2 separate regions of the Homo sapiens genome follow, and region 2 is linked to region 1. The links come from fine-mapping of genetic effects on gene expression. A gene starts in region 1. The other region holds a variant in brackets. All regions are shown on one strand. Distances are between the middles of the regions.

Region 1 (14,521 bases):
AGACTGCTGCCCAGGGGAGAAAAAGTAACTCAGATCTCTGAGTGGAATTTGTGAGGAAATAGATGAGGAGGAGAGATGAGAAAGGAGAGAAGAGAAGCAGAGTTTGAAGCAGTGAATAGAACACACCATACATGGTATCTCATACAAGGTGTGGTATTTCAAAGGACTTCTACAAATAAGGATGACTAATGCTCAATTTTGTTTATTTTCTGTCTTCTTTTTCTCTTCCTATGATCAGTTGACAGGATTAAGGCTCAATTTTAAATTGATCTGTTGCCACCATGTAATTCCCATTTCTCTTTGTAAACTTTTAGTTATGTCTACATAAAGGCTTTTTGAAAGTGAAATTTTTGTTTGTTTGTTTGTTTGTTTTGGGGTTTTATGGAAATCAAATAAAGGGAACCAAATTTCCCATCATGGCACTGGCAGGGCTGGTACAAGGGTCTGCTGTGATGAGCCAGGTACTTGACTGAACTGAGTTAGTGAAATGAGAAGCTCTGAGCCAAGGTGACATTAATATTATAACTCCCTTGGGAAGTTCCCCCCAAATTAGGGGAAAGCATTGAACTTTCTGGAAGTTGTAGAATGAAGATTTGAGCCAGCCCTTTCTGTATCTAAAAAGACAAGGAGACCCCAGCTGAGATCTGAGCTATACATACCTATGTGTGATCCTGCTTTCTCTTCCCTATTAGACCTGAGTCAAAAGGGACCCTCACTTTTGCAGAATCTCTATAGGCAGCTTCCCTCATAGGTCCAGGATGGATAAGGGAGTACATGCATCTTGAGGAAGAAGATGTCAGAGACTATGCCTTTGGGGTTGGAGGAGGGGAGAGGGCACTGGAGAAATGACTGGCAAATTTACCTTCACACACTGTGAGCAAGAGGTAGCTGCTTGTTTTCTCTGACCACAACATCCCAGAATATAATTATTATATTTTTACTTATTCATTTACTTAACAGCTGTATGAGACATAATTTGCATATCATAAAATTCATCTATTTAAAGCACAAAATCCAATGGTCTTCAGCAGATTTACAAAGTCGAGCAAGCAGCTTCACTATCTAATTTTAGAAAAATGTTGTCATTCCAAAAGAAATCCAATGTACATTAGCAGTTACTCCCCATTCCCTCTGCCCTAACTGATCTAGGCAATACTAATATATTTTCTGTCTCTGTGGATTTGTATATTTTAGATATTGTATATAAATGGAATCATACAATATGTGAGTTTTTGTGCCTGGCTTTTCTCACTTAGCATAATGTGTTCAAGGTTCATCCATGTCGTATCTTGTATCAGTACGTCATTCCTCTTTATGACTCAATAATGTTCCATGGTATGGATATATCACATTTTGTTTATCCATTTGCCAGTTGATGAACATTTGGTTTGTTTCCTCTTTTTGGCTGTTATGGATGATACTGCTGTGCATACTAGGGTGTGTGTTTACGTGGATGTATGTTTTTATTTCTCTTGGGTAGATACCCAGGAGTGGAATTCCTGGGTCATATGGTAAAAAACATAATTATTTTTTAATAAATGACTGCCTTTCTATTCTTCCCATTTTTTTTAACTGACAGCTTTTCCATTCCTCCTTCGGATCAGAGGGTCTCTGTTCTCACTTGGCAAATGACCCAAAGAAAAGCCATTAAACGGAGTGGCAAAAAGAGCAGGCCCGCCCTGGGTCTGGGTAGGAAATAAATTGCAAGAGCATGAATACCCTCCTTTTCTCCCCTCCAAGGAAGCCAGGACATCTGCTGCCTGGTCATGATCACTGAGCATGCAGCCTCCTGCTGGAGTGCCAGCAATTGGACGAATTTTCCTGGGCTCCCTGCCACAGAGATAACTTGTTCCAGCCTCTTATTTACACCTCCATCTGGCACCCCAGTGGGGGATCTAGCACGCCTAAGAGTCAGCTGTGCCACGGAGGACAGGCGTGCTCTGGTGCAGGCCAGCCACACACCTTGAATGACATGGCGGAGGGGTGCTAACGAGGTCAGCTGTCTGCCTGCCTGGAAGGTTGGGTCTTCCAGCTGCCCGATCTGCTTCTAACTCAGGAAACATGGGTGCAAGGCCTTATCTCTTTATTTATCTTCCCTCCTTCATTCCTTTTTACACTTTCCACAAATAATATTGCCATTTTCTCTATTTTCCTCAAACGTGCTTCTACTTCTCTCCATCTTTTCTGAATGTAAGTTATACCCACCTTTGGTTTATGTAACAGGGGATGAAGTCTTTCTTTATTTGTAGCTCCCCACTGCCTTCTACAGGGGTACTCTTCTTGGATGCGAGTATACAACCTCTGAGATGAACTCAGGCTCCAGCTTCATTTTCTACATAATAAATGGAGAAATCTTTTGAGGGTGGAAGTGGGATGGAAGATTCCAGATGAAGGACACAGGAGATAATGAGATGAGATTGAATGCTGTGGGAGCAAAAATTTTGAAAGGACTTCTCTTTGGTGACAGAGGGAGAGAAGAATGTGGAGAATGTGGAAAGGAGAAAGGCATAGTGACAATGATCATCACAGGACGTGTTATTTATGTGGTACTTACCTTTGCTAGGTATATGCTTAACACTTTGATTCATTATTCAACCCAATCCTCCAACAATGTTGTAGGGTACGTTTTATTATTATTATTATTTTTGCTGAGGAGGAAACTGAAGTTCAAAAAGGTTAGAGAACTTTTCCAAAGTAACCCAGCCCAAAAGCTCTGGGCTGGAATTTGAAACAAGTTTGATCTGACTTCAAAGTCCACATTCTTAATAACTAAGTTATATTGGCACTCCAAGAAGGTTTATAGCTGAACCTTCTGAAGGGCAGAGAGTTGAATTTGTAGGTGACTGGATTAATAACCTGGGAAGCGGAGTGGCTCCATTCTTCACTTTGTGTGAGAGCAGGTGGCACTGAGGTGGCCACTGACAGGCCTGCCACCCGCACACGCTGCTGGCTGCTTGCCCCTTGCCAGTCTGGGACTTTTAGCCAGGCTTCCAGGAAAGTGTAGTTCTGGATTTGGTCAGGCTGGCATTCTTCATTCCTAAAGGGTGCTGAAGTGAGATGCAGGAAATCCAAATAGCTGGAGGAAAAGAGGCAGGATATTAGAACTACCTGTTTCTTCCATACATACCAGCATTCTGAAGATTTCTAGGTAAGAGTCAATAAATAATCCATACCAACAGCACTTCTCAACAGAAAACATTTCTTCTTCTTCTTCTTCTTCTTCTTCTTCTTCTTCTTCTTCTTCTTCTTCTTCTTCTTCTTCCTCTTCCTCTTCCTCTTCCTCTTCCTCTCCTTCTCCTTCTCCTTCTCCTTCTCCTTCTTCTTCTTCTTCTCCTTCTTCTTTTTGAGATGCAGTCTCGCTCTGTCACCCAAGCTGGAGTGCAGTCGCCTATCTCTGCTCACTGCAACCTCCGCCTCCCGGGTTCAAGCGATTCTCCTGCCTCAGCCCCCTGAGTAACTGGAAATACAGGCGCCCACCAACACACTCAACTAATTTTTGCATTTTTAGTAGAGATGCGTTTTCATTATATTGGCCAGGCTGATCCACCCGCCTTGGCCTCCCAAACGGCTGGGATTACAGGCATGAGCCACAGTGCCTGGCCTGAAAACATTTTATCTTCTAATCTATATTTATTATATTACTGTTTAAAATTATTTTCTTTTTTCTAGAGTAACCATATATCTCAAAAACACGCAATTTGGGCAGCAAAGACCACAGAATAGCACAGCTAGAAGAGACCCCCATTTTGCTGTATAGATAAGAATTCAAAGCCCTGGTTGGCTTAAGAGTCATAGATCTGTGTTTCAGTCCCTACACTGCTGCTTACTAATGGTGGGACCTTGGGGAAGATACCAGATCATCTCCCCCCTTTCCAAAACAATGCCTATGCTGCTGAGGTAGTGGAGATTAAATGACACATTCTAGAGCCCAGAAAAGTCTCCCTAATAGTACGTGCTCAACTAATGGGAATACGCTCCAGTGGGCAATGTCATCAAGGCAAAGCTAGGGCCAAAACCTTGTTTTCTGATTCTCAAACTTGTGTGTGCATGCGTGTGTGTGTGTGTGTGTGTGCATGTGTATGTGCACACACAGGCATCAGCTGTGTAATGCTCGCTTTATAATATTTTACACTTATGTAGGTCTTCGTAGTTTTCAGAGCACTAATTTACATGATATCGTTTGATCACCGCAACAACACAGTAAAATTAGGCAGTAGTGGTATTATCAGGCCACTTTACACGTTAGAGAAGGGAGGCTGGGAAAAGCTGACTTTGTTCAGCTCCATGGCCAGTCAACAGCAGAACTGGACTCAGCACCCACATACCTCATGCCTCCTTATCTAGAGATTTTTCCACCCTAGCAAAAGGCCATCTCACCTTAATGCCAAAGAGTTTTATGAAAGTTTTATGAAAGAGTTTCTGAAAAGTTGTTATAAGGAAGAGTGAAATAAATACTGTGCTGGGGGTCATAAATGACCTAGGTAATTAACAACCTGATTAGATAGGGAAAAACTGAACTTTGAGATGATTGAGCAAAAGACAAAGAGAAAACACTGACAAGGCAGTTAACAACCCAATTCAAAGACATATGGAGAAATGGGGGTTGGTGGACACTTCAGACCACTGTGTAACTCTTTCCTGTCAGCTAAATACTCGTCACTGAGTGTGAAATTATTTCCTGTTCACTCTGCCTCTGCAACATCCTAACTGCATGTCCATATTTCCTCAGACAAGGAAATCCTCCAGTTCTTCAACATACTTCAAGCATCAGCTTTACTCTTTAGTCAAAGGGGTATTTTTAAGCCCCACAATTTGGATACTATTGAATTTACTTACCCTGGATACTTGAATATACAAGGCACTCTAGTGTTCCTAGAATACACAGAGTTCAGATTTCTTAGTGATGAAGAGCATCTAAAAAAATTACCACAAGGAAATGAAATGGGACCCATGACTCTTTCATTCTCATATCTGCTGCACCCCAGTGGCTGTTGCTCCTGGACTTCATGGTGGTGCTTTAAAACTATTTATACCGTCAGATTTGGAGCATCTTAAAAACCTACCACATCTCTCTCACAAACTGACATCTAATACTCTGATTCTATGAACAGACTAAAAAAACCATTGGAGTGTACATTTTAAGTGGGTGAATTGTATCTATGTGAATTCTATCTCAATAAAACCGTAAAAGAATTGAAAGCAGAGTCTAAATAAAGATATTTGTACACCCATGTTCATAGCAGCATTATTCACAATAGCCAAAAGGTAGAAGCAACCCGAGTGTCTATCAACAGACGAATGGATAAACAAAATGCAGCATACAATGGAATATTATTCAGCTTTAAAAAGGAAGGAAATTCTGACACACACTACAATGTGGATGAAACTTGAGGACATTGTACCAAGTGAAATAAGCCAGACACAAAAAGACAACAACTCTATGATTTCACTTACGTGAGGTACATAGTGTAGTCAAATTGATAGAGACAGAAAGCAGAATGGTGGTTGCTAGGGGGTGGTGGGGAGGATGAATGGAGAGTTGTTGTTTAATGGTATAGAGTTTTAATTTTGCAAGATGAAAAGAGTTCTGAAGATTGGTTGCCCAACAATGTGAATACACTTAATGCTACTAATCTGAACACTTAAAAATGGCTAAGATGGTAAATTTTGTGTTATGTGTGTTGTACCAGAATTTACTGAAAGTAGGGAGGCTGTGGTTCTTGTGTACCATTGCAAGGCACTACAGCCTGGATTCCTGTGAAATTCCAAATGAGCAATGATAGAAGAGTTTTCAGAACCTAGTATAGTTTTAGAAGAAAGGAATGTTCATACTCTACTTATTATTTATTTCAAAGTTCTCTGGGATGAGAATTATAAGCCAGTTACTCTAGACTTTTCTGAGATTGATACTAATATACACCTATATTGATACTCATATATCTATTGATTCATTTATTCCACAAAAGTTGATTGGTGTCTAGGCATAGTGCTGGATAATGAGGAAACATTGGTAAGACATTACTACCCCCTACCCCCCTAGGTCTTACAGTCTGACAGATTGAATCAATTGACTTGGCCTTGTAAAAAATCTCGAATATTTGGGCTTTTCATAGGACTTTTCTTTAATGTTACTTCACACAGTCATCCATAAATGCTGCAGTGACAACAGCAGCAACAACAACAACAATCTCTTGGTGTTTTTATGTACATTCTTGTATTTGGTTTGATTTTATTTGATTCTCAACTTCAATCTTCTCTTCCTTTTAGAATGCAGGTTTCTTGAGAATAGGCCAGTCTTACTCACCTCGTATCCTCTAAAAAGTCTCCATAGCTAACAAAATGCCTTATACACATAACAGCAAAACACTTTTGAGAGCCATGCTGAGAAAACATAGCTCTATCTCTAGACCAAAGTAATAACTACTGATTTTGGGGTCCTGAAACTATTCCAACCACCAAAGCAGATTGCAATATGATAAGGAAATATCTGTACCACAGTTTGGAAAATATATTTTAAAATGCCAATCGTGATTCTTCCAGTTGCATTGTGTAATGTGGTCTCTTTTTATGAAAGTTCTTTCTCTATAATATTGCTAATTCTACAGTAAGTGTAACTCTATAATATGTGAGATTTATTTGCATGTAGAAGTTTGCTTATGACTCAGACCTCATGTTATGCATTAATAACACATTTATCTCATGGCCTGTGGATTGACTTATATAGATATCACATTCAAACCAGAAGAAATATCTAGAGTTGGGCAGGGAGTAGAGAATAAGCGAGGCTGTTGTTAGAAGTATTGACTGTAACGATCATGAATAGTATTGTTGTTACATTGCCTATTTTAAGATCCTACAATCAAAGGCCTCTAAACCAGTTATGCATTCAGATCTAGCTATTTAATGAAAACCTATTCTGTACAAAGTGCCACTCATATATTATTTCATTCATGCTTCATAATACATTTCTGATAGAGGCATTCCTAGTTCATTTTACAGATGGGGAAACTGTGGACTAAGGTTGAAGAACTTCCCAGTGTTTCACAGCCTCCAAGTCCAATGCTGTTTCCACATATAATACTCAATTTTGAACATTGTATTGTGTTAGGAGACTTAACAAAAATAAAAATAAAAACAAAAACCCTGCAAGCAGTGTATGTTGGTCAAGAGTTGCTGTTTCTCTAAGGTCCAGTAAGCCCTTAGCTTTGTTTTCCTGAACTTTGAGTTTCAGTTGCACATCAAGCCCCAGAGGTGGGCAAATGCTGATGCTACAAGAACAGCAGCAAGTGGCAGCACTCAGGGCAGGAGTACTCATGCTGTTCTGACATTCCTAGCCAGGCTGTTGTTCACATGGAGCCATGCCCAGCTCACCAAGGACACCTACGTCTGCTGACGCAAGTCATTCCTCCCTGATTAATGAAAGTTTAATGTCCAAGGTTATAAACTGCTGAGAAGGCAATAGGGAAAGAGCTAATTTATGAGTCTGCAGTTACCAAAATGTAAGCAGCTCTGCTTTAGATCACTGTCTTGGAATGAGACAAACTCTCCAGCTACCTGTACTGTGACTCTAGACAAGTTACTTGCCCTCTCTGAACCAGAGTTTTGTTATGCATAAAATGGGGGTAATAAGCGTTTCTTCAGAGAGTCGCTGATATTGGAGATAATTTATGAAAAGAACCAGGTACATCATAGACTCTCAAAAAAAGGATAGCTATTATTGTTGTATAACAAGAATAATTAGTACTAGTAGCATCTCTCAGCAGGTAGAATGTTTTAGCTATGGTTCTGACTACCCCAGCCCTGACTCCTAACAACTTTCATTACACCCACTCTCTATTCTTTCATCACCATCCACCTCTTGTTCCTCCATTCTCCTTTACCAAAAATCATAGAGGATGAAACCTCACATAGCCCCAAAGCTGGTCACATTGGTCTGACAAATATGGTAGCAGGTGCTTCAATGAGCCCAGTTGAAGATGGGGAAACCAGGAAATGTGCCATCAGATACTAAGTGGAGTCAAGGGAGCTGATAGGACCTTTCCCTGGTCTATCCCTCTACTATCCTCAGGACAGGGCTTGGTGGGAACTTCCCTAGCCAAATGAGCCTCAATATTGTGTTTCAAATACTTCAATTTCCTTCAATATTCACATTCAGTGATGAATACTTACTGTTCTCAGAAGCCTTTGTTTTCAGGAAAAACTTGATGGTGGCTGAAAACATGATGGCTCTGCTTGGAGGGAAATGCTTGTTTTCCTCTCTCTAAGTATAAATGCTCATTCACACCTTTCCTGGCTTTTTGAGAGGTGGCAAAATGCCCAAGATTGATTGCCAGTTACTTGTGTTACCTGAATGAGGCCCTTGTGAGTCTCTGATCTAGGAAAAACAACCAAAACTAAACCAAAACTCTTTTTAGATCACCTAGTTCCGTTTATTTTTTCCTTCATTTTGTTGACATTTCACCTTTTCATCCATAAATTCTGGTGTTACACTCTGCACAATCAAGCATCTTAGTTTTGTTTTCCATTTTATGAATTATTCCAGAGGAACATGTTCATGAGAATTTACCCTTTTTTGTAATTACGGTCATTCCATCACTTTTAGATTTCCCTCATTTATTTGCCTCATTCATCATTTGCCTCTGGAAGCATATAATATTTTTATTTACCTTTTCTGGAATTAAATTTGGGTTTCATACTTAGGAAAAAGCCCTGCAGAATGAACCCATACCCAGACAGTACCATATTTAGGGGTGTTGATGGCTTAGTTCAATCACTTTAATTCTAGTTTTTAACCAAATTTGAAGACAAAAGTACAAAGGTTAAAAGAGAATGGGAATACAAAACAATGATTTCTGGCATTAAATACATCAGAAAGCCCAGCTAGGTTTTGGAGGACTGGAGAAGATGGGAGAGACAATGATTTTTAAAAACAGAATGTTTTGAATTTTATTTCCAATTTGGACAAAATTCACACATGGGAAATTCAAGGATTCAGAATCAATTTCTTTTATTGAAAGATTATTTAAATTTAACTATAAATTATAGAATAAATTGTTGGAATTGACTACTAATGATATACTGAAGATAAATAATGAAAATATAGCATTGATTACCTAATTTGGAAATAATAATTCTTGAATGCCTACTGCGTACAGACACTATACAACTCACTTAATGCTCCTGTGAAATTGAGATCCCACTTTACAGAGAAGAAAATAACGGCTCAGACAAGTAAAAAACAAAACCAAAAACCCGTCACCAAGTTCATGTGTTTTGTAAGTGTTACAGCTACACTAACATTCTTCCTAGTATCATTTAATGGACCCTAGAGCTCCATCATTGACTAGCTGTATGACTTAAGGGAACCTCCTTATCTTCCTTGCCTTAGTTTCCTCATCTGTGAAATGGAGGGTCTGGATTAGGAACTCCACGGTCTAAAGACATTCCTTGCAGCTTTAACATTCTATGAGCATAAGGAGTATATGGGCATGATTTTAAGGACTGGTTGTTTATGAGCCAATCAGAGGTGTTGAATAAACACCTCCCTACTAGGTCAAGGTAGAAAGGGGAGGGCAAATATTGGAAAAAAAAAACATGATGAGAAGTCTATAAAAATTGTGTGCTACCAAAGATCTGTCTTATTTGGCAGCTGCTGCCTCACCCACAGCTTTTGATATCTAGGAGGACTCTTCTCTCCCAAACTGTAAGTAAAAAAGCTTCCTTTGTATACCTGGACAGCACCAGTGAATAAGGGGTTAATAATACTACTAAGCTTATAGAAGGGAAGATTGGTTTGCCTTTGTTTTCGGGAAAAACTTGATGGTGGCTGAAAACATGATGGCTCTGCTTGGAGGGAAATGCTTGTTTTCCTCTCTCTAAGTATAAATGCTCATTCACACCTTTCCTGACTTTTTGAGAGGTGGCAAAATGCCCAAGATTGATTGCCAGTTACTTGTGTTACCTGAATGAGGCCCTTGTGAGTCTCTGATCTAGGAAAAACAACTTGAACACTCCTATCGTTAGGTTCTAATCAGTTTTTGAGATTCCTGTTCATTTCAACTCTCAACTCTCTTTTCATAACAACTACTTATTTTAGTGATTTATTTACATATCTACTGCCTTATGTCATTTTCTACATTCTCTTCCCACACCTACTGGTACCGACACTGAAGTTTCTTTGTCACAGAAACAAACCCTTGGAGTATTTTGCCCTTCGCCTTCACCCACTGCTCAAATGAGGAAATGCAACAGGGTTGGAAACTTCACAGAGCATAGTCATCATTTGATTATGAATTTCCAAACCCTTCATGTTTGACACTTTCTAGAACATTTCCTGCTGGCCCCAGACACTGTGAAGACCCTACAGCTTAAGATAGTAGGAATCAAAAGGTTGTGTATTTTGATACATTTGCTCTACTATCTGAAAAATAGGCATTGTGAGAATATGTTGCCTTTTTAAAAAATAACTTCTCTTTAAATAGTTACCTAGGGCTCCATTAGACAATTTGGATGCACCAGAGCTTGAACTCTGCTACCCTGCTATTCATCACTTTAGCTAAGGCACATCTGGGTAGCACCCAGGCCCAGGTTAGAGCCAGAGATACTGGGGCAGGGAATGGGGAAATGTTGAATATCTAAGAGGTCCTTTGGCTTCATTCCAAGTTTAGAGGAAAGAGCACCATTCAGGACTCGTTCTGGGCTGCTCCGCGTGTGTTAAAGGGCACTGGAAATCAGGCTGTCCTAGGACTGCCCTAGATCATCCCACTGCACTTGTCACTGGGACATTGGGGTGGATAATGAAGCTATTGGCAGCTTTAAGCATCATGTACAAAAGTGCTGCATGCAGTGCCTAGAAATCATGGGCTATCAATAAATAAGCCTCCTCATATTTGCCTTAAAAATCCATTTGTCTTGTACATAGAGAAGCAAATGAACTTTCTGCTGCCTTCTATTTCTCCAGGAATTAAATATCCATGTTACAAATAATTATGTTTTCACAGAACATCTTCAAGGAAGGCAGAAAGAACCATACCATAGGATTCTACCTGCTATTTTGCTGAAGGATTAGAAATAGAATTCTAAGTCATAAGCCAATAGGATGTAACTTGCAATCCTAGAACATCACAACTTAGAAGGCACATCAGACATAGTCTCTCTGGCTTTAGTTTCCTCATCTCTAAAGTGACAGGGTTGACGCAGGTATCTCTGAGGTCATTTGTAGCTCTGTTTTTCTGTGGTTACCTTCTGTTGTTAATACAACTTTCCTCCAGATTTATATACATATTACTTGTTACACATATGTAATAAAGTGCGTGATAAAGAATGTATAAAATGAAATGTGGCCGGGTGCAGTGGCTCATGCCTGTAATCCCAGCACTTTGCGAGGCCAAGGTGGGAGGATCGCGTGAACTCAGGAGTTCAAGACAAGCCTGGGCAACATAGCAAGACTTTGTTTATACCAAAAATAAAAAAAAAAATAGCTGGGCATGGTGGCAGGCGCCTGTAGTTTCAGCTGCTTGGTGTCTGAGGTGGGAAGATCACTTGAGCCCAGGAGGACGAGGCTTCAGTGAGTCATGATTGTGCCAGTGCACTCCAGGCTAGGCAACAGAGCAAGACTCTGTCTCAGAAAATAAAAAAGAAAGAAAGAAAAAGAAAAGAAATGTGAGAATCTCTCCACCCTACCCCATTCTTCAGAGGTAACTCCAGAGTTGTTACTCTTTGTTTATATAGACACAAAAACAGTATGGGTATATATCATTTTTTAATTAAAAAATAGGAGGACAGTATATATTGCATACTTCTCTGAAACTTGTTTTTCATTTAATAATATAATGTGAACAACTTCCATCACACTGAAAAAAGTTGGCTTGAGATCTGAGAGAGCAGAGGCTTAGGAGTACGGAAATCGTTCTTTGTCATTACCCATCCCAGGTTGTCCTCCTGTCTCCTTGTGGTGAACATTGGCCTGTGACCCTGTTTTATGATTAACAGAGAGGTGACATTTGTGCTAACGTGGTACAGACCTTTAATCCCACTGTAGAAGTTTAACTCCCTGTAAACAGTATTAGTTTGAATTATCATTTTCACTGTTATTCTGGTTGAGTCAGCATACCCAGATTGAAGAAAATAGTTTAGTAATAGGCAGTAAACAGAAAAATGGAGGTCACTTAGGTGATTTTTTTCATTAAAAAAAGAGAATTAGTAATACATTGCATTTTATAGTGCTTTGTAAAGAATCTTCATGTTTATCATGCAATTTAACAAATATATTTTGAGCAACTACAATGAGCAGGGTGCTCATAGATGGCATTTGAGTTACCTGGCAAAGAGACAACCAGAACAGTTATTATCACCATTTAATCCATAGTAAACTGAGACTCAGGAAGCTGCCTGACTTGCCTGAGGTTCCAGCTAGATTAGGCAGAGCTGGTTCTTAAAACTAGGTCTGTCTGATCTGCTAGCAGCAAACCTCTACATAAATGTGTCAGATGTTTATGAATAAGTAATGTCCATGGTGTAATCACCCACAGCGTAAGGTACTCTGGGGTGTCATCAAGGACATTAGGAGTCATCCAAAGGCCATTTTTTTCATCAAGCTCACTCTTTCCCTTGAATGGAAAGGAGTACTGCCCCTTATCTCAACTTGATGCCTTATTAGCTATTTGTCCTTGGATAAATAATTTACACTCTCTTATATTCTTTCCTAATCTATTAAATGGGAGGGGAAAAGAGCCCAACCACCTTCTGGGATTATTTTCAAGAAAAATTATATAGTGCATGTAAAGCCATTAGCAGAGTGCTTGACAATACATGATCACTTGTTGTTATTATTATTATTGGGCTGATTTTCCCTTTTGTTTCATTAAGAAAATATCTTTCTTTCTTGGTAATTGTCAACTCCTTTGTACAAATGCCTAAACTGAGAGAGAAAGTTTGCACCTTGCTCTGAAGATCACACCCAGGTTGGCTTTTTTCAGCATGATGATCTGGAGGCCAGGTCCAAAGCTAAAAGTCTTTGACTCCAATATTACAGCTAATATATAAACAGGGCAAACATGCTCTGCTGGTGGCTGGGACATAATGGGCCTTAGAAGGTCATCTTCTCTAGAAATTGTTGCCCACTAGCTTGTCCTATTACCCCAGTAACAGCATTGCAGTTTCATTCTTTTGGGGTAAGACAAGAACCTCTGTTGAAATGGAGAGGCAACAATGAGATCATCAGTTATACCTTCTCATGAATTAGCTCAGTGGCTACTGACTTTTTATATCAAGGGACAGAGTACTGACAGCCTACCCTGAAGGGATGCAGAAAATGTGGAGAAATATATTTGTCATGAGGACAGGACTGGATAGGGACTCTGCTTCATCCTAGCTGGGACCTTGAACAAGTCAGTTAGCTTCTCTACGTCTTAGCTTGCTCATTAATTAATGAAGATAATACCTGCTATAATTACCTCATTGCCAATGGATCAGATGAGACCTGAGGTGTCCCTGGGCTTCCGGGAAGTAATATGTAGACATGGAGCATCCACCCTGTGCTGAGTGTATTGGAGGGAGAGAAGATTAGAGAAAGGAGGAGACCCTGGCATTGGATAGGAAGCTACCCAAGATAATCTTCATTACCATTTTTTCTTTGGTAGCCCAACCTATGCAAAAAGCACTCTTTGTAACACCCAAAGTGAGGGCTCTTTGAGCTTGCATTTTCAAGATTAACCCAAAGTGGCATCCGAACAGGGGCAACGATCTCCTTCAGAGCACAACCACTGTGGAGGCTGCTTGGTTAGGGGGTCTTCAAGCCAGAGTCTCCCCTTGCTAAAGCAGTGAAGCTGGAGCAGGGACTGCCATACAACTTTAGCATCCTCATAGGCAGTGAGAAACCCAAGCCCAGAGGCACTTAGGAAACATCCTCTCTGGTCTGCCCCAAGTGGTTTCATAGAGGGTTGAATATAAGGAAAAGGAAACTTGCACCCAACCCTCTGTAGCCCGAGGCCAAATGGAAGTTAGCTTTAAGACTATGTATAGATTTCTCCTTTCAAGTTTGTTTCCTGGAGAATAATCTGTTGGAACTACAGACTAACAGAGCAAAGCAGAGGATAACTGCAGAGGTCAAGAGCGACATTGTCCTGGCCTCAAGCCATTAAGGAAATCCAGTGGCACCAGGAGTCCACAGAATAGAGAGACAGTCCATTACTGCAGTCCCCTCTATTAGTCATATTTTAGTGGGTCACTAATTAGCTGGTTCAGTGTTTTGATTAGTGATTCCAAAGGCCTGCTGGAAAGCATTCTGTCTAGGATCACCATGAACATTCAGTAACCCACCTTCATTCATTGCAGCTAATTGCAACTAATAAGTGATGGGGGAAAAACAAACCTCATTTGCTTATCCACCTGTGGAAATGGGTCAGAGGTGTCACAGAGGTCTGCACAGCATGTCTGCACCCCCAACTGTCTTGGTCATGCATCCATCTGAGCCACCCATGGTTCTGTGCACAACTCTCGCACACTCTTTTCCAGACCTGTC
Region 2 (17,801 bases), 23 kb before region 1:
AATGTTTGACACAAACACTTATTTTCAGAAACAATTGTTTCCCAAAGCACTTGGCTTGTCCAAAGATGACTTACCTTGTTGGCAGCCCCTTGCCATACCTGTCTCAAAAAACAAATCAAGCTGAACCCAGTTTCATTGTCCACCCCTCCTTGCTGACAGAAGCTTGCTGATCTGCAAATGGAGAGAGGACTGGGAAGGTCACAACTTGTCCTTGCTCCCTCAAGGTAAGTGTCATCCCTTAAAGCTTGCCTGCTGCCTCATTGCCTTTCCCAAGTCTTGTGCCAAGTTGGTGCTTCTCATATCATAACTTCACTATAGCTGATTGCGAGTTGGATCTGGTCTCCTGGAGTTCCTCTCACAGAATGACTAGAGCTCACCCATCACATGATGTGAGAGTGCCCTTCTTTGAACCCTGAAGAGTTTTTAACCGAAGACCACATATTTCTTCCACCTGTTCTTGTCAGTGTTTCCATAGGGAACCACAGGCCTGAAAAGACACATTCCTTACTTTTAAAAATTAATTTGTTTAGACAACCCACACTGGTATTGGTCAGAGTCCTCAGACTGGCTCTGAGGATAGCTGACTAAGCTGCTGCTCCAAAATGCTGGAATATGTCATAATTCACAACCATTGTTCATAACTGTTTGACTACCCTAAACCTTACCTTCAAGGATTCTCTTATCTGAATGAACTAAGCAGAATAAACCGAACAATAAGAGTAGGGCTTGAAATCCAATTCTTAACTAATTAGAAAGCATGTATGGGCTAAGAGTTTCTTACCCCTTGCCAGGAGGGAAATGGGGAAATTTGATTTATATGTGAAAATTCTGCTTTTCAGCTTTCACTTGCCAAAGATAGGACAACTCAAATGAAAAGAAAAAATGGTGTTATCCATTTATTTTCCCAAAAGAGATGTTTGCAATGCTTTTTTACATTCTCTTCATACATGGGCAGAGTTTGTGCTGTAAATTTTGCAAGTTGGTTTCAGTGCAAGAGACAGTTACAGCATTAGGATGCATTCAGTGGCAAGTAACAGAATCTAGTCTCCCAGGGGCTTAAGCAATGATGACATTTAATTTTCTCACCTGGCAAGAGGTCTGGAGAAGGCAGTTGCAGCAGTGCAATGAAGTCATCTAGGACCCAGATTCTGTCTGCTCTTCTGTTCTGCCATCTTTTGCCACCTCAGCTACTGCAGCTTCAAATATCGTGTCCTCACAGAGCTGCATTCAATGGGAGTAGGAAGGGGCTGGGATAAAAAGCTTTCTCTTGTAAAGTTCTTTTGTTGTTGTTTTGTTTGTTTCCCTCCTTCCAGGAAGAGCAGTTTCAGGAAGTCTCCCAGCAGACCTCTCCTTTTGCTTCATAGGGCCAGAAATAGGCCACATGCCCACTCCTAGACCAATCACAGGCAAAGGAAAACAGAACAAGCCCAGTTGCAATTAATTCTCTTGGGGCTTGGATAGGGGCCCATCTTCTATGATCTCACTGGCTCCCTACCCACCATCTAAACAAGATGGGGCTTTTGTTGGCTAGGAAGAAGAGGCACATAGATAGCTCTTGGGTAAAATGTGAACAGCAACTGCCCTGTTGCTGGGGGAAGTGATCAAGATTTTTAATATCCTTTCTGCTCATGCCATTTTATTTAGAAATTGAAGTAACATGGAGATTTATTTTAATATAGTCATATAGTTAAGTTAGGCACATTACTGAAAATATATTCTAGCTGCTACAAGATTAATTGTTTGAAGATATCAAAGGGCTTTGAGAGGCATAGCTTCTTAGATTCCTGGCGGCCCATTAGATTGCATTTTCTTTCTCATACGATAGGACATCTGAACAGCTGAACATGAAACATCATGGAAACAATAAGATCATTGTTGCTACTTTCAAGGAAATACAGATAATCAAATTCAGATTGGACATGGGATTGACCAGATAGCAACGGAAGCTTGTGCTTATTTTCAACCTATTGTGGAATTGTCTTGAATTGATGATTTGGGGCCCATGAAGAGCTTTTTATTTTTTTGAAAATAAATTCACAATTTTAGAAAGTAGTCATATGGATTTTGATGTATAGTATAAACCATGCTGTAAATTTCTGAAGCTCTTTTTGGCATGCAAATGTTAATACATCTGCATCAGAAAGTATTTTCCTGTCTGTATTCAGTTTCAAGAAGAAAAACCATGATAATGAAATTAAATTATTTTCTCCAAAAAAACACAGTATCCCAGAAAAGATATAGGGGGGTCTGACATGAATCCCAGGAGATCCTGAAATTTCTAGAGATTTGAGCAATGTGTGACCCTTTACTCTTCAAGAAAGGAATAAGGATGAAGACAGGAACTAAAATCATTCCTGCCAACTAGAAACAGAATTGTGACCTCTCCCTAATGAAATCGATCCCACAGCTCAGTTAGCACCTAAAGACACCATGTGTCGCCAGTCTTTGGATGTAAGCAGTCATGTTAAGATTAAATAATGCAGAGTTTCCTTTGTTGATAACACTCTTTCTCAAGCCCCAAAAGTCCTACTAAATATTTCTGGGAGTCTGCAAAAAGCTACCTTACATGTATGTATGCACAAAGAAGTCTGCTAGCTGCAGTCATTACAGAGCATCGATTTTATCTTTCCTTTCCTGTTCTGGCTCCACACTGCCTTGCAAAGTAACTGGAAAGGCCTCTCTTTTACCCCCACTTATAGTAGCTATTTTGAAACCACCAGTGCCTATGCCAGGGGTACTATTTTTTAATGCTTCCCCAAATATCAGTTCTCCAGGCTGTGGTAGACTGGTGCAGCAAGACCCAGTGTCTTCTCAGTGGCTTACCATGATAAAAGTTTATTTCTTGCTGACACAAAATCTAACAGAGATCTGGGCAACCCTTTAGGACAGCTGTTTTCCATGAAGCCTCCCTGGTCAACTAAGCAGGTTTAAATTGATAACTTGATGGTGGTTACTCACTAGCTCTTTGCTTCAGGCTGCAAATGCTGGAACTAATCAATATGGCTCTACTTTAACTGCAAGAGGGCTAAAAAGTGCAGAGAGGTTCATGTATATGAAAAGGGAGAAGAACAGATTTTGGTGAATACTAGTGATATCTACTTTACAGGTCAGTACTTGGTCCTGGGGGAAAGTGGAAACAATGACCCTCTTTCTAACTGTTGCTTTGTTTTGTCACTTGATCTTCCAATCAGTACAGCTTACATCCAGAATCTCAAAAACTTTCTCATGAGTACACTCTGTTGTAGGCTCCAACATAGGTCAAGGGTGGAAGAAAATGCTGTGCCATCTTTCCCATTCTATCTGACTCATGTGTGTGTGTGTATGTGTATGTGTGTGTCATTATATATATGAGTCATTATATATATATAATATATAATATATGTATGAGCCATGAGCCATTCTCTCTGACTCATATATATATATATATATATATATATATATATATATATATATTTCATGACAAATTTACATACACCCTCTTTCCCCATTTTTTTCCATCCTCCTTCAAACAATAACCAACTTGTTTATTACTGTATTATGAAGTCTTAGCCCAGTGCCTGGAATTCAGAAATGTGTTAACGACTGAATGGATGAAAGGATGGATTGGTTGATGAGTGGGTGAATGGATAAATGATGGTCCTCTTTCCATAGATGATGCAACGAAGGGAACCTGGTTTCACTATCTACCCTATGAACTTGTCCTGTTACCTTGACCCTAGTTGTAGTCCTTCTGGCTTAGATACAAGCTTAGAAAAAGATTGCCTCTTTTTTTGGCTCCCTTTGGATAGAAATTTTGTTTAAGATTAATTATGTTAGTGTCAGGGGTTCAGTTTAGGAGATGAAATCCTACCACTCAGGGATTTCTAATTAAGGAATATGCACATGAGAATAATACCAAATAGAAAATAAAATACCTTTTTATTAACTAAGCGCCCATTTCTCTCCCAGGGCAGAGATATTTGTTAAACCAAATCAAATTATACCATGTAGGTTTGGAAACCTAAGGAAGGTTTCCCTCACTTCCACCCTGGGTGATGAAAAGATCTGGAACAGACCAAATACAATTTATGCACATAGTACATATGCACAGGACAGAGAACGGCCACGCCCTTTCCCAGTGTGCTGCAATAAGGGGACTGTAATTGCCAATGAGGGAACATCAGCTTAGAGACTCTGCCCTCTAGCGAAATGTGGTTTGGTAATTGCCTTGTGCTTTGAGTACTTGAGTAATTCCTCCTCCCTCTGGAAGAAGTTAAAAAGTAAGGAAGACAGAGGGGATGGGGGTGGCAGAAACGCCTCTTCCTCTCCAGACCAAGGTGGAAACGGGAGGAGAGCTGGCTTCTGCTCTTCTTATTCATCTTGAATATAATCTTCACTTCCCCTTTGCCCAAGCCCTTCAGTCCTTTCCCCAGGATCACATTCATTCTACTCCATGACAAAATGACAGTTTTGTCCCCAACCTAGGTCAGTGTCCTCACTCTACTACGTGCTTCCTAGAGGACAAGTTCAAACTCTAGGTTTATAACTGCACTTTTGTATAAAGTTCTTCTTATTTTTAACATAAAACTTGCTATGCACTAATACTGAAATCAATATAAACTTTATTTTGCCAACACATGGATTTCTGATCACGTGGTCCACTATTGAAAATTCTTGGCAAGCTTATCTCAATGAATAGCCAATAGCTAGATTCTGCTGCTGAGCTAGTCTTCATCTCCTTAACATATTTGCTACAAAATAAAAAATCCATAATAATGAAAAAATTGGGGAGATGGGGAAAGACTATGAAGGGTTGGCATAATATAGGCAGTGTGGGAGGGGAGACTTTGGATGGGGCAAAAATCAATATTCCCCTTTCTGGCTTCTTTCACTATCTCCCATTGCCTCCCAATAATATGCCATCATTTTCACCCATTCACCGTCAGTTCTACCAGCCTGAATAAGTGTAAACAGCCTCTGTCTGTGCCATAAATAACCTATTGTGATAGTTCTCTGTTAGATTAACACAGTTCTCCTTCGTTTCCCATTAACAATGCTATTTATTTAGTAGTTCTGTCAACAAAATTTTAGAATAGACAAATAGCATAGACAATGCTTCAAAAAATTGTCATTACTGCAGAATCTTAAAAACAAAAACAAAAATGAGGGCAATTAAAAAACGTAAGTAGCGATTACAAACACGCCACCAGAGAAGATTGTGGAACAGTGTCGCAAATGATTAAAGAAAAATATGACACAGAAATTCTTCAGTTTTCAGGATGGCAGATAAGAAAAGGAACAACTCGCTGAAACACGAAAACTCTCTCTGCTTGTAGGATAACAACTGGCTGAAATCGGTTGGAACCATTATGGCCAACTGGAGTCTGTGTAGAACAAGCTTGCTGACATCACAGCCTGAATTTCCACTGCATGTTTCATACTAACTTCCCCCAAATTTGCACATGTATTCCAGGAGGTAGCATGAAGAGATAACTGCATGCCAGAGGACTTTCCAGACCTCCCCTTTCCCTCTACCAATCAGGGGTAAATCCCAGAATCCATCCCCTAAACCTTCATAAAAGTATTGCCTTATAGCCAGCATGAGGAGATAGATTTGAGTTGGACACCTGTCTCCTTGTTGGTCGACCTGCAATCAAAAGTTATTCTTAGCTGGGCACGGTGGCTCACGCCTGTTATCCCAGTACTTTGGGAGGCTGAGGCGGGTAGATCACCTGAGGCTGGGAGTTTGAGACCAGCCTGGCCAACATCGTGAAACCCCATCTCTACTAAAAACACAAAAAATTAGCTGGCTGTGGTGTGGTGGTGGGTGCCTGTAATCCCAGCCACTAGGGAGGCTGAGGCAGAAGAATCACTTGAACCCGGGAGGCGGAGGTTGCAGTGAGCCAAGATCGAGCCATTGCACTCCAGACTGGGCTACAAGAGCGAAACTCTGTCTTAAAAAAAAAAAAAAAAAGTTTTTCTTTTCTCAAAAACCCAGTATCATAGCATTGGCTTCTAGCACATTGGGAAAGGAGCCTCTTTTGCTCAGTAACAATGGCAAATAAGTACATTAAAGGATGCTTAACATTATTAGTCATAAGGGAAATGAAAATTAAAACCACAATGAGATACTACCACACATTCATTAGAATGGCTAAACTTTTAGGAAACTGAACATACTGAGTGTTGGTGAGGTTATGTAGCCACTGAAACTATTGTACAGTACAGCCACTTTGAAAGACAAGTAGGGAGTTGCTTGAAAAGTTAAACACATACCAATGATCAGATCCAGCCATTCGGCTTCTAGGTATTTACACAAAAACAATGAAAGAAAACATGTGTCCATATTAAGACTCATACAGGAATATTCATAGAGCTTCATAGAGCTTCATTTGTAATAGCCCAAAACTGGAAACCATTCAAATGTCCATCTGCAGCAAATGGACAAACAGATTGAGAATACCCATACCACGGAATACTACTCGGCAATGAAAAGAAAAAAACTATTGATATGTGCAGCAATATGGATAAATCTCAAAATAATTATGCTGATTGAAAGAAGCCAGATTTAAAAAAAGTGTGTATGATGTCATTCATGTAAAATTGCAGAAAATGCAAACTAATCACTATAGTGACATGAAGCAAATAAGGGTTGCCTGGAGATGGGGATGAGGTGAGGTGAGGTAGGGAGGAAGAATTTACAAAGGTGCATAAGAAGACTTTTCGGGATGATGAATATGTTCAATGTCTTGATAGCAGTGATGGCTTCGTGAGTGTATACACATGTTGAAACTTACCAAATGTTATATTTACATATATGCAGTTTATTATGTCAATTATATCTCATAAAGTTGTTGTTTAATAAAAGACTTTTAACACTGGTTTTTGCACCAGCCAAAGATGAAGGAACCGGCTTGTATCTTTCCATTAAGTTTCAAATTACTCTCCCGGAAGCTCCCTTGAAAGTGTAGGTCAGCATAGCGGAGGGGTGAGCGTGCTGAGTCACCTATCACCCCACTGTGCTTTTATCCACTGGTTTGTTTATAGTTTCTCTAAAGATTTCTTTCCAAAAAGACCAGGCTTAAGAGGGGAAAAAAATGGAAAAGGCTTTAAAATTCACTGGATCTTTAATGCCTACTAGCTGTAACATTATCAATCTAAGGTTCTATAAATGAGGAATTTTGTAAAATACTGTCTTTTTTAACTGAAGAAGCCTTCAATTATAAAAGACACACCATATCCCTAGCTTTCCTTAACAGCTTTTTAGGGGAAAAAAGCAAAATAAATGAGTATACTTATTATAAGATGCACTTCAATTTCAAAAATATTCAGAAGTATGATTTTAGAATACACATTCCAGCAAGTAGTCCTAGAGTTTTGGAAAGGGTAGGGTGGGATCGGCCTTCATAAACTTAAATTGCCTGAGTTGTGGTCTCAGCACCCAGGCTAGTCTCAGGCACCATCTCCTTCCTTTAAAGAAGAAGCAATACACTAAAACCCTAAACATTGGATTCAGCACTAGTTTTTTTCTTTTTTCTTTTCCCAGGCTTTGTAGATGGTGAGGTTATAGCCAAAATCCCATTTAACTCTTAAGAATTTAAGCTAACTTTCATTCATTTATTTATTCATTCAACAAAAACTTATTGGGCACCTGGCACTATTCTAGAGTCTGGGGACTCTGTCTGGGGACAGAGTAAGAAACAAGACAGACAAGAGTCCCTGACCCCATAGAGCTTACATTCTAGCAAGAAAACAAATGTTTAAAAAGTATACAGATAAAACACAATATGGGTGTTTCATATTGTGGCTCATATAGGCATGGTGGCTCATGCCTATAATCCCAGCACTTTGGAAGGCCGAGGCAGGTGAATCACCTAAGGTCAGGAGTTCGAGACCAGCCTGTCCAACATGGTGAAACCCCGTCTCTACTAAAAGTACAAAAATTAGCCAGGCATGGTGGTGCGCACCTGTAATCCCAGCTGCTTAGGAGGCTGAGGCGCGAGAATCACTTGAACCCAGGAGGTGGAGGTTGCAGTGAGCCGAGATCGTGCCATTGCTCTCCAGCCTGGGCGACAGAGTGAGACTCCATCTCAAACAAAACCAAAACAAAAAACACAATAGCATTTCAGATTGTGATAAGTGCTATAAAGAAAAGCAAAGCTGCTTAAGGATGTAGAAGTTGTGTGGGTTATTTCTGATAAGGTGTTATAAAGACTTCTCTGAAATGACATTTAGGTAGGGATATGAATGATATGAATGAGTGAACTATGTAAAAATCTGGAGTGTAGCATTCCAGGCAGAAAGCACAGCGAGTAGCATAAGTTCCTGAGGAGGACATAGCTTGGCCTGTTTAAGGAGCAATAAGGTCAGTATGGCTGGGGTACAAAGAGAAAGAGGGAGTGGTCAGAGATGAAGTGGGAGAAGGAAGCTCTTTTAGGTCACAGTTAGGAGCTGGCATTTTATTCTCAGTGTGATGGGAAGCTACTGGAGAGGTGATAAGTTTCTGAACCCCCCACTGAGATTCAGAAGAAACATCTTCCAAGCACAATATTGACATCAGCAGTCTTATCTAATCTCCTCTACGGCAAACGGTTAGATTCCCTCTATCAGCCACGAAAGATAAAAGTACGAAGAACACTATACTGTGCTAGAAATCAATGAAAAGGGTCAGTCACATGCTACAGACAGGGGAATTTTTGCAAGATACAATACAGATGAGATTAGTTTGAAAAAGTGGCCAGTCCTATCTATTACAACTCAGTCAGAAGAAGGAACAGCTAACCAAGAAGTGGACCCCAGCAGAACCCACCTATTTACTCAGGGGCTAGGGTCAGAGATGAGGTGAAGCAAGAGATGATATGGGGGTATATCTGGATCCCCCCAACAACTCTGCAACAGTTTACTTGATAACCGAAGTCATACCAAGCAGGATCCTTCAGTGTCATTTACTGCCAATGTGCCTTTGACAAGGATAAATATGCCTGGCAAATATCCGGGGTGCTACCTTGTCTGGTATCTAACAAGGCAAACCTTGCCATGCAAAGAATAAAGGCATAGACCCAGTTACTTTCTAATTACACAGCAAACAAAAAAATGAAGCTCTTTAGTATACAAGTGAATTTCCTAGCCACAACTACCTCAGGAACTGGTGGTTTCCACACTATCCCCAGTTTGATACCCGAAGTAACAAAGAAAAACAACTTAAAAATCAAAATTGTCTATATAGCCTTCATTTAGACATCACAAAAACTCTGAGAGATTACATTTTAACTTTCCATGTGAGGCAATCAGAAACTATCCTGGCCGGGCGCGGTGGCTCACGCCTGTAATCCCAGCACTTTGGGAGGCCGAGGCGGGCGGATCACGAGGTCAGGAGATCGAGACCATCCCGGCTAAAACGGTGAAACCCCGTCTCTACTAAAAATACAAAAAATTAGCCGGGCGTAGTGGCGGGCGCCTGTAGTCCCAGCTACTTGGGAGGCTGAGGCAGGAGAATGGCGTGAACCCGGGAGGCGGGGCTTGCAGTGAGCCGAGATCCCGCCACTGCACTCCAGCCTGGGCGACAGAGCGAGACTCCGTCTAAAAAAAAAAAAAAAAGAAACTATCCTAAGCTTACTTCTTTAAGAGTGTGCAAATGGGAGCATTTATAGGTGATACAAAGAGATAAAAAAGAAGAGCATCGATCTATCAGAGAAATATCTTCCCATGAAATACAGTTGCTACAACAAATAAGAGAAATTTTAGAAAATTCCAAATCAAGTTTTTGCCAGATTCAAGAGGACTCTGAGCCAGGTGTGTGTGGCTCATGCTTGTAATCCCAATGCTTTGGGAGGCTGAAGTGGGAGGATCACTTGAGCCCAGGAGTAAGAGGCTGCATTGAGCCATGATGATCACACCACTGCACTGGGTGACAGAGCAAGACCCTGTCTAAAAAAACAAACAAAAAAAACTTCAAGAGGACCTTGAAACTTCAAATCGAGAGCACATAGTCATGAAACATTAATGAAAAAAAAAAAATCTAGAACCATCTGTTGGTTGTAGTGAATTTGATAAGCCTGTCTGGATCAAATTTCTTAATCCTATCCTGCCACCTCCTTTCAATACCTTGAAAAACGCCACCGTTTAGAGTATGTGCACAAGTGACAAGTTATGGTCCCGAATCATGATCTCATCCATCCTTGTGAGCTAGGTTGGACTGAATGTCTTGAGCCCAAATGAGTCCTCTTCCTGCCCATGGGGCTTCCTTCACTCTGGTTCTTCCTTAGTCTTCTAAGTGGAGGGAGCAACATTTTTAACTGGGAGGGATAACCCAATGTCTTTCCATAGAACCAGCTTCACGGGAGCAAAGGAAGACGCCATTCAATAGAAAATACCTAACAAGAAAGAACTCCAAGATCAAGTGGCATTGGAGCATTTATCCTAACACAGTTCAACTTATCTATCTACATACACCCTTCTCACTGGAAGTACTGATTCCATTCAGATATCAAAGGAGAAAGCCTTGAGCTCCCCCTAGAGAACAAAGCATGTAGCCAGTATTTCCTGATCTTAGCTCTCTGTAGGCTTCACAAGTCTTGCCTCCCCTTCTCTGAAAGAGGCACTGGCGCCTCTTACTGCCTTGGGCACACGTCTTTACAGTACTTACCGCATTGTGCTATTTGTTGCAGCTCCTCATTCCCTTTCACATGTGAGCCTCTTGACGGCAATCAGACTGTCATTAGGTTTTCTCTTCTATCCCTTAAAATGGTGTCTGGTGCAAAGCGGGCCCTCAGCAACTATGTTTGTTAGGGAAATAAAGCATTCAGGAGAAACAAAAAATATTAACATTCCTGGAATGTTAATATTTTGTCTTTCAGTGCTCAGTTATTTCTCCTGCTTTCTTTTCTACTTCTTTACTCCACCACATATTATAACTAGCAACTTACATAGCCCTTGTTCATGCAATATGACACTGAATCCTACAATTCTATGGGAATAGAATTTCCCTTTTACTCTTACTAGAAAAGAAAATGGACATTCAAACAGGTGAAGTGAGCTGCTTAAGGTCACATAGCCAGGAAGTATTAGAACAAAGAAACAAAGCCAGGTTTTTCTGACCAGATTTCATGATCAACTAGGTGACTTTACTGTGTTCCTTTGGATTTTTACCAGCTTTAGCCTTAGTTTGTCTGCAACCGCCACACATGCACACTGCATACACAGTATACACACATGCACACTGCACATAAATTAGCAAAATGAAGATAACTTCTTCTGGCTCTCCCTTCTTTCTGCTTTATAACATGATCACTGATTGTAAAGCATTCAAACAATATACTCATTCTCAAGCTTGATTGCACATTGAATCATCTGGGTAATTTAAAAAATTACTAGAACCTGGGTTCACTTCCAGTAGTTCTGACTTAATTTGTCTAGAGTGGGCTGAGCATTCAGATTTTTCATAGGTTGTTAATGTACTAAGTTGAGAACCACTGCAATACAGAAAACTGTAAATAATTTTTTAAAAATCTGTAATTCCTTGGCCAGGCGCAGTGGCTCATGCCTGTAATTGCAGCAATTTAGGAGGCCAAGGCGGGCAGATCACTTGAGGTCAGGAATTTGAGACCAGCCCAGCCAACATCGTGAAACCCTGTCTCTACTAAAACATACAAAAATTAGCCGGGCGTGGTAGTGCGCGCCTGTAATCCCAGCTACTCAGGAGGCTGAGGCAGGAGAATTGCTTGAACCTGGGAGACGGAGGTTGCAGTGAGCCGAGATCATGCCACTGCATTCCAGCCTGGGCGATAGAGCAAGACTCAGTCTCAAAAAAAATTCTGTAATTCCACCACTCTGAGATGATCACCATAGTTAATATTTTGGTGAATTTATCTTCTCTTTACATTGAAGCATACATCCAGTGTTACAAAAAAGGGATAACATGCAAGTTGTTTTGTAACTTAGTTTCTTTACCTGCACCCTTTTCCTCACCTGTATGTGTGTGTATGTCTGTATGTCTGTAGTGTGTATTCATATATACATTTTAATGGCTTTGTAGTATTTCACGGTATAAAGGTAATACAATCACTTAAAATCTCCTTCAGATAGATAGATAGATTGATAGATAAATTTTCTGTTAAAATCACTACTTCAGTAAACACCTTCGTATATACTATTATGCCACCAGGCTTGTTACAGCATCATTATTTATCTAATCTGATTTACATGTTATTACAACATTTTCTCCTCACCTAAATTAAGAAAAATGAGAGAGGATGCAAGAAAGAAAGAAAGAAAAAAGATATGAAAGGCAAGTCCAGGAAACAGAAAACCCATCTCTCTTACAAATTTTCTGAGCTTATTTTTGACACATATTGGAATGATGCCCTTTGTTTGAAACCAGGGACGACCCATTTCCTAACTCTGATTTCCTTGGAGCCCTTTTTCTGTAGCCCGGGGAGGGGTGAACATGAAGCAGCAAGCCAGGTAGATTCCAGAGGCAGGGTCTCAGCAGGGTGTCCATCAGCCACAAGAGGTCACTAGGGGGATTTTTAAAAACCCTCGCTTCCCTGAGCAAACTCTCCCAGGTGAATACACTAGTTTTCAGGGTGTGTTGGCAATGGTAGAAATGATGGGAACAGAGTGATCTGACAGGATACTAGAATTCTGAATTTATTGTAGACATTGATTTGCTGCAAGATGTAAAGAAAAACATTTCTTTTCCCAATCACACCACCATTGTTTTAGGAATTATTTTGCCATCATAGAAAAGGAGAGACAAGTGGTATGCTCATAGGCTTTGGAGCCATAAATACTGAAATCATATCTCAGCTCAGTATTACCTTC[A/T]GTAAGTTACATAAGCTTCCATTTCCTCATCTGGAAAATGGCCACAATGAATGATGATACCTAATAAATGAAATAAGCCTGCAAAACGCTTGGTACATGTTAAAAGCTAAATAAATATTAGTTGCTGTGTTTGATATTGTGTCTGTGTTTGATATTGGAGGAGAGATGAGTTTGGTTTGGGGCATTTTGAATTGGGCATGCTGTTGAAATATCAAAATAGAGACAATAGCAAGAGCAGAGGGAAACATTTGTGGTCATATACTGCTCATGGGGGTGTTAACTAAACATAGGGACATAGTCTCTTTGTTATGCAATTGGCAGTACGTTTTGAGAACTAAAAGTGTTTTCATAAGTCAGGATGCAAAGTGTATAAAAGGGACCTCAAAATACAACAGCTTAAACTAGGTCAAAATTTATTTCAATCTCATTTAACATCCAGTAGGCAGGCAGTCCAGGGCTCCGCCACCCAGAGCTGGCTTTATGAGGGTTTGTCTTGTGCAGTCACACAGAGCCCCACAATCAGAAGGGCCCAATGTGTAGCCTAATGCTCTGCTGCTGCCATCTTGAAATTCTTCATAATTTCATCTTTGAATTTGTATTTTGTAAGTCAAATCCAATGGGACAATGAAGCATGCACATAAACAGAGGAATACACAGTAGGTGCATCTGTCCTTCCTTTGTATGACACCTGTCATTCACAGTAGGTATATCATGTCATGCCACCATGTTTGAATGTAGTAACGGCAATGCTCTCTGACCACAGAATCCCAGTAGACCCACGATGCATGGGAGTTTGGGGAGACTCCAAGTGAGTACAAGTTAAGTGTGTTATGTCTATGACTAACAGGGGTCTGGGAGAGAGTACTGACAGATCCCAAAAGGCCAAGCATTCCATTCAAACTAGACTTGCTTCTGTTCCAGAAAGAAAGCAATGGCATTGTTAGAAACATGAACAACAAAGGAACCCCACCACATCCTTTATTACTTGTGCTACTTCCCTGTATCAGCCAGGAACTTACTTTGAAAATAACACAGAAAGGGAACAATAGGGTAACCTGTAGTTCCTTTTCCTGTCAGTCCTTCCTTACTCATCAGTAGGTAGAAGGCAAAGCATGTTGATAGAACATATTTTATCAAGCAGTGAAATAAAAACAGTTGAATTTTTTGTGTGTGCATTGTTCCTACTCTTCTGGTAAGAATGAACTACATATCCATGTATGAACCACAAAATACAAATTGTAATTTTTGTGATTCGACACGAGTTAAGTGCTCTTATATTTGCATTTAAAATGGGTGTGGCACAATATAAAAATGAAAATTTATACTGATTTAAACTTTTAGTCTTCTTTACTTAAAACAACATTAAAAAGTAACAAAAATCCTATAAGAAATTAAAATAAAGAGCTTGGAAGAAAGATAAACTTTATCTTTTATTACCTTTAATGGCACTGCTGTATTTTCCACTTGTGGATTCTGTGTCTGCTTCAGCTTTTGCTATCTTCTCACCAGTAAAGAGCTGGGGAAAAAACAACAATGACAGGGAATTGAGCATAATTCTTTTTGTTTGTTTGTTTGTTTTTGTTTTTCGAGACAGAGTCTCACTCTGTCACCCAGGCTGGAGTGTAGTGGCGCGATCTCTGCTCACTGCAAACTCGCCTCCTGTGTTCAAGCGATTCTCTTGCCTGAGCCTCCTGAGTAGCTGGGATTACAGGTGTGCACCATCACACCAGGCTAATTTTTGTATTTTTACTAGAGATGGGGTTTCACCGTGTTGGTCAGGCTGGTCTTGAACTCCTGACCTCGTGATCCTCCCGCCTCAGCCTCCCAAAGTGCTGGAATTACAGGCATGAGCCACCATGCCTGGCAAAGCATAATTCTTTAATGGGCCCACATCATTTCATTACACTCACATCCCACTAGCCAGACCTGTCACACAGGCACATCTAGCTGCCAGGCTGGCTATATAGAAATATCATTAACGACGTAGCTATAGACCCAGCTAAAACTCTACTACTTTAGAAGGGGAAAATGGATATTGGGGAACAATTTGCAGTTGGCCACAGCATTAATTCAATTTGATCTAATATTTCTGGTCCTAGAAGTTTATGAATGAAAAAAGCAGAGGTGTATAAAAAGCTTTACCTATAAGGTTATTCATTGCATCTTTATGTATAATAACAGCAAACAATTAGAAATAGGCAGACTTCCAATAACAGAAGTTGGTTTGTTACAAGAAAAACTTGGAACTTTAATGTTCCCTCCAAACTGAGAAGGAATGAAGAGACCAAAGAATGACTTGAACGAGTCCAGCTTAACGAGTAGATGAGTTTATTAGGACTTATGCACAGGGCACTCCTGGATGGTGGCGGGACAGCTCTCGAGATCCGCACCACCTCCCATCTCTAAACTGCTTTTAAGCTAATTTCTGGCTCTTTGCCTGCTGTGTTTGAGCAATGAGACTGTTTTTCTTGGTAGGTTCTCAGATACTCTCCGGGATATTTGGGTTTTCAGGGACACTTGTTTAGTTCTCTGCAGGGCATCATGACTGTGAGTCACTGCCCAGTCTTCAGGGTTCAGGCAGCAGACATATACCCTTAAGTATCCTGGTGGGGGACTTGTCACACTACCAGTCAAATAAATAAAGGCATATATATATGTATATATATATATCTTAGAATATTATAGACCTATTAAAAATTACATTCTCAGATATGGTTTTTCTATGATTATGTCATAGGAAAATGCTCAAGATGTAATGGAACACAAAAAAGCAGAATGCAAAACCCTACATATAATGCAATTTAGTGGCATTTTTTCAACTATGGGGGTAGTGTCTGGGTTTATCCAGGGATCAAAAGGACAAGACTACAGGCCTCACAGGGTAAATTTCTCATGACATATGGTTTGAACTACAGCCCTGCAGCATCATATCTGGATTTTATTTATAGGCTCAGAACAGATACATTTCTCAGAGTGAATCATCTTAACCAGGGTCATAAGATAAAAACATAGATCCAGAAGACTAGTTATTCATTTACAATGAGGTATAATAGTGACATAAACTGTATGTGTGTGTGTGTATATATGTGTGTGTGAGTGTGTGTGTGTGTATTAGTCCATTTTCACACTGCTGATAAAGACATACCCCAAACTGGGCAATTTACAGAAGAAAGAGGTTTATTGGACTTATATTTCTACATGGCTGGGGAGGCCTCACAATTATGGCAGAAGGTAAAAGGATGTCTCACATGGCAGCAGACAAGAGAAGAAAGAACTTGTGCAGAGAAATTCCCCTTTTTAAACTATCAGATCTTGTGAGACTTATTCACTGTCACAAGAACAGCATGCGAAAGACTTGCCCCCATGATTCAATTACCTCCTAACAGGTCCCTCCCACAACACATGGAAATTCAAGATGAGATTTGGGTGGGGATGCAGCCAAACCATATCATTCCACCCTGACCCCTCCCAAGTCTCATGTCCTCACATTTCAAAACCAATCATGCCTTCCCAACAGTCCTCCAAAGTCTTAACTCACTTCAGCATTAACTCAAAAGTCCATAGTTCAAAGTCTCATCTGAAACAAGGCAAATCTCTTCTGCCTATGAGCCTGTAAAATCAAAAGCAAGTTAGTTACTTCCTAGATACAATGGGGATACAGGCATTGGGTACATACAGCCATTCCAAACTGGCCAAAACATTGGGGCTACAGGCCCCATGCAAGTCCGAAATCCAGCAGGTCAGTCAAATCTTAAAGCTCCAAAATGATCTCCTTTGACTTCATGTCTCACATCTGGGTCAAACTAATGTAAGAGATGAGTTCCCATGGTCTTGGGCAACTCTGCCCCTGTAGCTTTGCAGGGTACAGCCTCCCTCCTGGCTGCCTTCATTGGCTGATGTTGAATGTCTGCAGTTTTTCCAGGCGCACTGTGCAAGCTGTCAGTGGATCTACCATTATGGGGTCTGGAGGATGGTGGCCCTTTCTCACAGCTCCACTTGAGCTGTCCAGTAGGGACTCTGTATGGGGACTCTGACCCCACATTTCCCTTCTGCACTGCCCTAGCAGAGGTTCTCCATGAGGGCCCCACCCCTGCCACAAACTTCTGCCTGGGCATCCAGGCATTTCTATACATCTTTTGAAATCTAGGCAGAGGTTCCCAAACCCCAATTCTTCACTTCTATGCACCTGCAGGCTCAACACCACATGGAAACTGCCAAGGCTTGTGGCTTCCAAAGTCTGAGGCAACAGCCCAAGCTGTACATTGTCCCCTTTTAGCCATGGATGGAGTGGCTAGAATGCAGGGTACCAAGTCCCTAGGCTGCACAGGGCAGGGGGGACCTGGACCCAGCCAATGAAACCAACTTTTCTTCCTAGGCCTCCCGACCTGTGATGGGAGGGGCTGCCGTGAAGACCTCTGACATGCCCTTGAGACATTTCCCCTTTGTCTTGGTGATTAACATTTGGCTCCTTGTTACTTATGCAAATTTCTGCAGCTGGCTTGAATTTCTCCTCAGAAAATGGGATTTTCTTTTCTATCACATTATCAGGCTGCAAATTTTCTGAACCTCTATGCCCTGTTTCCCTTTTAAAACCGAATGCCTTTAACATTACCCTAGTCACCTCTTGCATGCTTTGCTGCTTATAAATTTCTTCTGCCAGATACCCTAAATCATCTCTCTCAAGTTCAAAGTTCCATGAATCTCTAGGGCAGGGGAAAAATGCTGCTAGTCACTTTGCTAAAACATAACAAGAGTCACCTTTGCTCCAGTTCTCAAAAAGTTCTTCATGTCCATCTGAGACCACCTTAGCCTGGATTTCATTGTCCATATCATTACCAGCATTTTTGTCAAAGCCATTCGACAAGTCTCTAGGGAGTTCCACACTTTCCCACATTTTCTTGTCTTTTCTGCGCCCTCCAAAGTGTTCCAATCTCTGCCTGTTACCCAGTTCCAAAGTCATTTCCACATTTTCAGGTATGTTTTCAGCAGCGCCCCACTCT

Direction of the effects. Alleles are on the strand shown, and positions count from the first base shown. SD is a standard deviation of normalised expression in the study named.
For the expression in subcutaneous fat of the gene that starts at base 9,638 in region 1, allele A in region 2 goes with a lower level than allele T (large effect, 0.92 SD a copy in TwinsUK).

The links.
Region 2: its variant is fine-mapped to the expression of ALDOB in subcutaneous fat (TwinsUK, PIP 0.95).

Annotation. Positions count from the first base shown.
Region 1 is chr9:101,430,891-101,445,411 of GRCh38, reverse strand. ALDOB (aldolase, fructose-bisphosphate B) reads left to right here and starts at 9,638. Exons shown (of 9, transcript NM_000035.4): 1 at 9,638-9,703; 2 at 14,515-14,521. It overlaps LOC105376184 (a long non-coding RNA gene), which reads right to left and starts at 3,269. Exons shown (of 4, transcript XR_001746862.2): 1 at 2,555-3,269; 2 at 2,206-2,332.
Region 2 is chr9:101,451,894-101,469,694 of GRCh38, reverse strand. It overlaps LOC105376184 (a long non-coding RNA gene), which reads right to left. Exons shown (of 4, transcript XR_001746862.2): 3 at 14,239-14,317; 4 at 10,606-10,754. TMEM246-AS1 (TMEM246 antisense RNA 1) reads right to left here and starts at 1,256. Exons shown (of 3, transcript NR_121576.1): 1 at 1,087-1,256. RefSeq lists a cis regulatory region at 6,975-6,985 and enhancers at 6,908-7,052, 7,440-7,956, 7,957-8,473. The variant A/T (reference allele first, on the strand shown) is at 12,802.